Linked DNA regions of Homo sapiens. Changing the gene in region 1 together with any one later gene gives a genetic interaction. Each region holds a gene or a part of one and is shown on either strand. Other genes may lie near its edges.

Evidence for each region.
Region 2: of POU2AF1 (region 1) and SIAH1, changing one suppresses a phenotype caused by changing the other (phenotypic suppression), as found in Homo sapiens cells (one study listed by BioGRID).

Annotation. Positions count from the first base shown.
Region 1 is NC_000011.10:111,372,726-111,376,546, forward strand, and holds part of POU2AF1 (POU domain class 2-associating factor 1), read right to left. Parts: intron 1-3,821. UniProt on the Homo sapiens protein: Transcriptional coactivator that specifically associates with either POU2F1/OCT1 or POU2F2/OCT2. It boosts the POU2F1/OCT1 mediated promoter activity and to a lesser extent, that of POU2F2/OCT2. It recognizes the POU domains of POU2F1/OCT1 and POU2F2/OCT2.
Region 2 is NC_000016.10:48,375,201-48,379,021, forward strand, and holds part of SIAH1 (E3 ubiquitin-protein ligase SIAH1), read right to left. Parts: intron 1-3,821. UniProt on the Homo sapiens protein: E3 ubiquitin-protein ligase that mediates ubiquitination and subsequent proteasomal degradation of target proteins.

The DNA.
Region 1 (3,821 bases):
CCCTTCCTTTCTAACAGCCCCTGCATTATGGAGGGTGGCAATGTGCCCAGCTAAACAATTATGCTATTCTCCCTTGTAGATAGAAATGGCATCAGATGTCAGCAGAAGTTGTGTGTTGGGAGGGAGAAGGGGCAGCGATCAGGAGGCATGATCTTTTGCTATTCCTTTTTCTTCTTCTTGCTTGTCCGAAGATGTGATGCTCACAGATGTAATGGCTGGAGTTACAATGGCAACTATGAAAAAAATCTTGAGGACAAGAGCCACATGCCAAGGATGGCAGATTAGAAAGGAAAAAGGAGCCTGGGATGATGTTGGCACTGTGAGACTCCATAAGATCCTGAACACCCTACTGTGGACTTCTTTTATGTGAGAGAAAGGACACCACTGTCTTACTTAAATCTACGTTATTTCAGGTCTCTTCACCAGCAATCAAATGTAATCCAAACTGATCCAACAGAACATTTTGTATACTGCATAGCACCAAATAAGTTCTCCATTCCCCAGAGATGTTTGTTTATCACTGTTAAAAGGATTGAGCATTCTTCTGCTCTTAGCAATGCCCAAAGGTTTATTAGAAGCCATCCATTTCAACCTCCAGGTCAGCAGTTCTCAGCCTTCTCACCTGGGAGCCATTTGCAGCTCTCCTTCAATGCCCAAGACAATTTAATCAGAAGCTCTAGGTTGAGATCCAGGCATCTGTGTTTCTTAAATCTCCTCAGAGCATTCCAGTGTGTAGCCAAGGTATAAAAACACTGCCCTAAGCAGATAGAAGAATCCCATCTATTAAATTAAGGACTTCTGATTTTAAACTTTAATTTATTTTTTGTATAAACACTCAGGAAAACTCAGCAATTAGAGCTGGCAAAGAACCTCAATCAAGTTCAATCTCCAGGAAAATTAGCCAGGAAAAGGCAAGTTCCATTCCAGCACTAGAACATTTGAGACCCAAAGTGGTTAGGTGGCTTGCTTAAGGTCTCTCATCTAATTATCTGTAGAATGGAAAGTAAAACCCCTGGCTCCTGCCTACAAGTGCTTGTCCCCAGTATCACACAAGCGGGACAAGAGGGTTTCAGAGAAGGCCTCCCCATCCCAGGTAGGCTCACTTAGTTGTCAAGCAGTTCTACAAAAATGAGAAAACTAGAGTGTTATTAAGCATTTCATAAAGGTGAGAATTATGTTAATGTTCATAATCAATTAGCCAACTTTGGTTTGGTTGGCTCAGAATAAGAAATAGGTGGACATCTTCATTAAGTGGGAAGATAAACTACTTTAGAAAGATGTCAAAGGGGGAAAAAACACTTTGTAATGGGAAAGTTAAAAGCAAATATTTATAAGACTTCTTTATGAATTAAATGTCCACATATTTAATGAACAGCTGTAGGCAAACTTGATTTTTTTTTTTTTTTTTTTTGGTTCCTCATGAAAGAACAGAATCCCAAGTGTGAATTGGGAGAGAGCTTTCAAAACTTCTGAGTCAGTAACTTTGGGGACAAATCTGGCATTTTCTTTAGTAAATAAATATAAGGGGCAGGAAGTAAAATATCCATCAAGAACATCATCTGCTTTTTTACCAATTAAATCTGTGTATTTGGTTGATGTTTGTCCTTTATTTCACCTCCAGACAGTGCACGTGAATTTGTGTCTCTCTTTTGGATTCTACTTGCCCTTAACAGCAAGAACTGCTTAATTGGCCAGGCGTGGTGGTTCACACCTGTAATCCCAGCACTTTGGGAGGCCAAGGCAGGTGGATCACTCGAGGTCAGGAGTTCGAGACCAGCCTGGCCAACATAGTGAAACTCCATCTCCAATGAAAATGCAAAATTAGCTGGGCATTGTGGCATGTGCCTATAATCTCAGCTACACAGGAGGCTGAGGCAGGAGAATCACTTGAATTTGGAGGCAGAGGTTGCAGTGAGCTGATCTTGCACCACTACATTGCAGCCTGGGTGACAGAGCAAGACTCTATCTCAAAAAAAGAACTGCTGAATCAATGGAATCAACTTGGTAAGAAGTAAAGGTGCTCACTAGGCTTATTAAATAAGCAAAGGTTGTAACATAGAATAGAAATATTAGAGGTTGTCCAGAAACCTAAATTACCTCTCATTGTAAGTTGTGCTTAAATTTATGTAGGAGATAGGCTTCCAAAAATTATATGCATAGTACACATTTTACTTATCTTTAACTGCCTCCCAAACAATATTGGCTCTTTAGTGGAACCCTAGAGTACATCTGAAGAGCAGAGTTCTATGTTGATGAGAATTTTAAGTCCTTAATTTTTCTGTTTGCTAAATCTCTGCTCTGTTCAAGTTGTCTGAAAGCAAAGGCATATCCATGACATAATAATCTGATACGAATTATTTCCTGTTCCAAGGCCAAGTCCACAGGACACCAAGACAATCAGCCAGTCCAAAGAAAATCAGTCAAGCCTGCCTTTCATTAGCATGTAGATTGTTCCCTAATACAAACAACAACAATAAAAAGCAACTGTCCAATTTGTTCACTTTCTAACAAATGGAGTTCAGTTTATTATACACAGTTCTATCACTTTTAAGGAAGAAATTCAATCAAATCAGTTTGGGGCATTGTACAAATTATTTAATGAATTGGCTGCAAGTTTTATTTCCCATTGGTGTTGGCAATGTACAACCCCAGGATACTGAGTATCTTTTTTTTTTTTTTTTTTTTTTTTGAGGCGGAGTCTCGCTCTGTACCCCAGGCTGGAGTGCAGTGGCACGATCTCGGCTCACTGTAAGCTCCGCCTCCCGGGTTCATGCCATTCTCCTGCCTCAGCCTCCCGAGTAGCTGGGACTACAGGGGCCTGCCACCACAACCCCAGCTAATTTTTTTGTATTTTTAGTAGAGACGGGGTTTCACCATGTTAGCCAGGATGGTCTCGATCTCCTGACCTCGTGATCTGCCCGCCTTGGCCTCCCAAAGTGCTGGGATTACAGGCGCCCGCCACCGCACCCGGCCTGATACTGAGTATCTTAAGGAAATGAATGCCTGAAGAACCAAGCAAATCATCTCAGACCAGAGGTTGGCAATGTTTTTCTATTATAAGCCAGAGAGAAAATATTTTAGGCTTTGTATGCTGCACAGTCTCTGTCACAACTACTCAACTCTGCAAAAGCAGCCCTAGACAATATTCAAATGATAGACAGAGCTGTGTTCCAATAAAACTTTATTTACAAATGGAGTGGCAGGCCTGATTTGGCACAGAGGCCATAGTTTGCAGACCACTATTTTAGACCCTTGGAAAATTTTGCAATATCCTATCACCCAAGAATATTTAGACTGTGGCTTTTTAACTATTCTAATCAAAGTGTGGAAAAGAATATATGAATTTAACATAACACTGATCATTCAAGATGGGCCCACAGGTGGTTTCCAGGACGGAAGGTACTAACTCATCCCTACCACTACTTATCAGGAAACTTGCTATCATTTTACCTACATTCTCTACTTTAATTCTCACAAAAACCTTGGGAGGCAGACATTAGAATCCCCACTTCCCAGATAAGGAAATGAATGGAAATTTCCTTCTCACAAAGAAAGAACTAAGTTGCACAGGCAACTTTCAGACCTGTCTCCCTCCAAGGTTCCTGCTATTTCCACTACACTGTTACTAGCTGGGGAGGGATGGTAATTCTTCACATGTGCACCTGACCAGCAGGTCCAAGTCCAGAACCCAGGGAGAGAATCTACAGATGGAGTGACTTCTTCATCCAATTGGCCCATCAAGCAAATCTCAAATCCATTGGTTGGGGCTTGAAGATTTCTACTTCTCTGTGCCAGCAGTTCTGGGCTTTGTCACTTTATGC
Region 2 (3,821 bases), on another chromosome or scaffold:
AATAGTAAACTGAAAACAGCCCTATCCTAAGAAAGTGGTTAAATTATGGTCCACACAACAGAATACTGTGTGCTGCCTTCTTTAAATAAAATGGACTCATACATCAGACTTACTAACATGTAAGAATCAACTGTTTAAACGGGGTGGGGGGAGAGAGGCGAGGAGCAGTAGCTCACGCCTGTAATCCCAGCAACTTTGGGAGGCTGAGACAGGTGGATCACTTGAGGTCAGGAGTTGGAGACCAGCCTGGCCAACATGGTGAAACTGTTTCTACTAAAAATACAAAAATTATCCAGGCATGGTGGTGGGCACCTGTAATCCCAGCTACTAGGGAGGCTGAGGCAAGAGAATTGCTTGAACGCAGGAGTTAGAGGGTATAGTGAGATGAGATCAGGCCAACTGCACTCCAGCCCGGGCGACAGAGCGAGACTCCGTCTCAAAAAAAAACAAAAAACAAAAAACAAATTGGGGGGAGAAAAAAAGCTACAGAATATACAGATTACAATTTCATTTAGGTTAAAAGAAAAAAATAGGTAAGTATAATAGATATGCACATTGATGTATATATTTTCATGTATGTATGCATGTATGTAGCATGTAATGAAACAGAAAAGAAACTGGAAGGACATCCAAACTGCAGAATGTAGTTTAATGGTTTAAGATGCAGGATCAGACAAAGGGAGAGCAAGCCTGGAATTAGAAACCAGAGAGAGATGGGACCACTGAACTACAGGCACACAAAGCATCAAGAACTCCAAGAAACAGAGACTGTCGGCACAAATTCCATCGTTTGAAATTACAGTACACAGTTCAAACATATATAGTTCTTAGAGATGATAATCATGAGAACTACAAGAATTTAGGTCAGATCAAAGAAACTAACTTTAAAATATCTTTGGCTGAGTAAAACAAAAAAATGTGAAGCACACCCAGACTACACCAAAATGTCTATGATGGTTACTTTTTAGTAATCAGATTATAAATAATAGTTTGGGGGTGAGGAGGGATTTCGGTATCTCTCCAATGTTTCATAAAATTATTGGCAACAAAAAATATTACACTTAAAAATTTTAATGCACATTTTATCATATCTCCACATTTTCTGTTAATGAATTGCTAGTAACTTCTACAGAACATCAAATACAGAATTCAAGAGCTGATTTTCTCCTTGCTTTCACTTTTTTTCTCAAAATTCCTCAAATAGATGGATACTTACAGGAAACTTAAAACCAGCCTATTCACAAAAAACTACATATTTTGTAGACATTTTATTTTATACTATAAAAAAAAATCTTATTTATTTTTTCTTGAGACAGAGTCTCGCTCTGTCGCCCAGGCTGGAGTGCAGTGGTGCAATCTCAGCTCACTGCAACCTCCACCTCCCAGGTTCAAGCAATTCTCCCGTCTCAGCCTCCCAAGTAGCTGGGATTACTGGCGCCCGGCACTACACCCGGCTGAAAATATCTTAAACATTTTAAAAGTTAACAAAATTTATGATAGCCCCCCTCCCCTCACAAACTCAAAAGAATACAGTCTGCAAAAATTAACTAACGTCTGTATAGACAAGATATCCGAAGTTGTTCTAATAAAGCTAAATCAGGGCCCTTGACAAGTTTTTAGAAGTAAAGCTACCTTACCCAACAAGCCTGAGTTCTGGCCAAATTCAAAAGGGCAAAATTTAATGTGAAATACAAAGGAAGGAAACCAGGAAGAAGTTTTTAACAGGGAGAGGATTACTTCATTTTGTCAAATAAATTATTGAAGTAATCTTTCCAAGGTAGAGTCTTTGCAGAGAAGCTAGTATACACTTATATTTACTGTATCAACCATCACTAGACCAAGGTGGTCGATGTGACACTAATAAATAACTATACCAAGTACGCTGAAATATTTTCTACAAAATTCAAGACTGGCATTAAACTCCTTAAGAAAATATTTCTCACTGGCAAGATCTGTTTTATAAATATAATTAGTTCTCCAAAGGTTTTTCTCTTTCTAGTTTATTCCATGTGCCCGGACTCCCTGTTCAAAACAAAAACGAATAAGCAAAAAAAACCAAAAACAAAACAAAACAAAAAAAACAAGTCAGTTCAAACATGACTGGGCAACCACAAACCTAATGGAAGGTTTCTGCCAGCTTTATTCTGGTCATATCTTGTCTGTAACATTAAACCTAAAGTTCTGGAAGACTTTTTTTTTTTTTTTTTTTGAGACAGAGTCTTGTTCTGTTGCCCAGGCTGGGTGCAGTGGCACCATCTCGGCTCACTGCAACCTACACCTCCCGGGTTAAGTGATTCTCCTGCCTCAGCCTCCGAGTAGCTGGAATTACAGGGGGATGACACCATGCCCAGCTAATTTTTTTATTTTTAGTAGAGACAAGGACAGGGCTTCACCATGTTGGCCAGGCTAGTCTTGAACTCCTGACCTCAAGTGATCCACCAGCCTCGGCCTCCCCAAAGTGCTGGGATTACAGGCGTGAGCCGCCACGCTGAGCCTCCTGAAGATTTAAGGAAAAAAAAAATCGTTCTAGAAATACTGGTCAGAAAGTATTTGAGATGGTCAGGGAAAAGAATAAGACTTAAAAAACAAAAGAAGGGCCAGGTGTGGCAGCTCACACCTGTAATCCCAACAATCTGGGAGGCCGAGGCGGCAGGATTGCTAAAGCCTTTGAGTTTGAGACCAGCCTGGACAACATAGTGAGATCTCGTCTCTAATAAAAATAAAAATTATAATAAAATAAAATAAGAAGTACTGGGACACATGGCTATTCAGCTGGTAACTTTGTCATGGATAAGCAAATAATACTCCTTAATCACACAAAAAAACATAATGTTGAGTGAAAGAAGCCAAACAGAAATGAAAGAGTACAGGCCGGGCGCAGTGGCTCACGCCTGTAATCCTAGCACTTTGGGAGGCCAAGGCAGGCAGATCACCTGAGGTTGGGAGTTCAAGACCAGCCTGACCAACATGGAGAAACCCCATCTCTACTAAAAACACAAAAAATTAGCCAAGTGTGGTGGTGCATGCCTGTAATCCCAGCTACTCGAGAGGCTGAGGCAGGAGAATCGCTTGAACCCGGGAGGTGGAGGTTGCCGTGAGCCAAGACTGTGCCATTGCACTCCAGCCTGGGCAACAAGAGTGAAACTTTGTCACAAAACAACAACAACAACAACAAAAGAATGAAAGAGTACAAACTCTACTGTTCCATTCATATAAGGCACAAAATTAGGCAAAATAAATCTATGGTGTAAAAAGTCAAGAGGTGGTTTCCTGTGAAGGGGGCGGCTCCTTGTTTCTTCGATCTGGGAGGTGGTTACAATAGCGTTCCTTTTGTGAAAATGTCAAGCTGTACACATGATTTGAGCACTTTTTCCATATGTATTTAGGCTAAATGTCAACAAAATAGTTTACATTTAGAAAATAAAAGTCCTAATATTGCTCTAGGTATTCTCCTAGAATCTCCTTGAACAACAGCCAGATGCTAATATCAGCTAACACTTCACAGCATCTCTCCTCTCTTTCCCTCTGCACAGTTCTTCAACCTGTCTCTCTCTACTACCCATTTGCTCCAGCAACACTCCTCAGGTCCTAGAGCAGTCCAAATTCATCCCTACTTCATGGGGCCTTTATCTGGCTGCATCTTCCATCTAAGATGTACTCCTTCCCCCTTCAAAGGGCGAGCTCCTTATCCTTGGACACCAGGTCTCCCTTCCACCCCACTGGTCTCTTCAGCACTTTGACTCCTTTACAGTACACTTCACAATTTGTAATTCTGTTTCTTTCTTTCCTCACTAGAAGGTAAGTGGTAATATTTAGAGAAG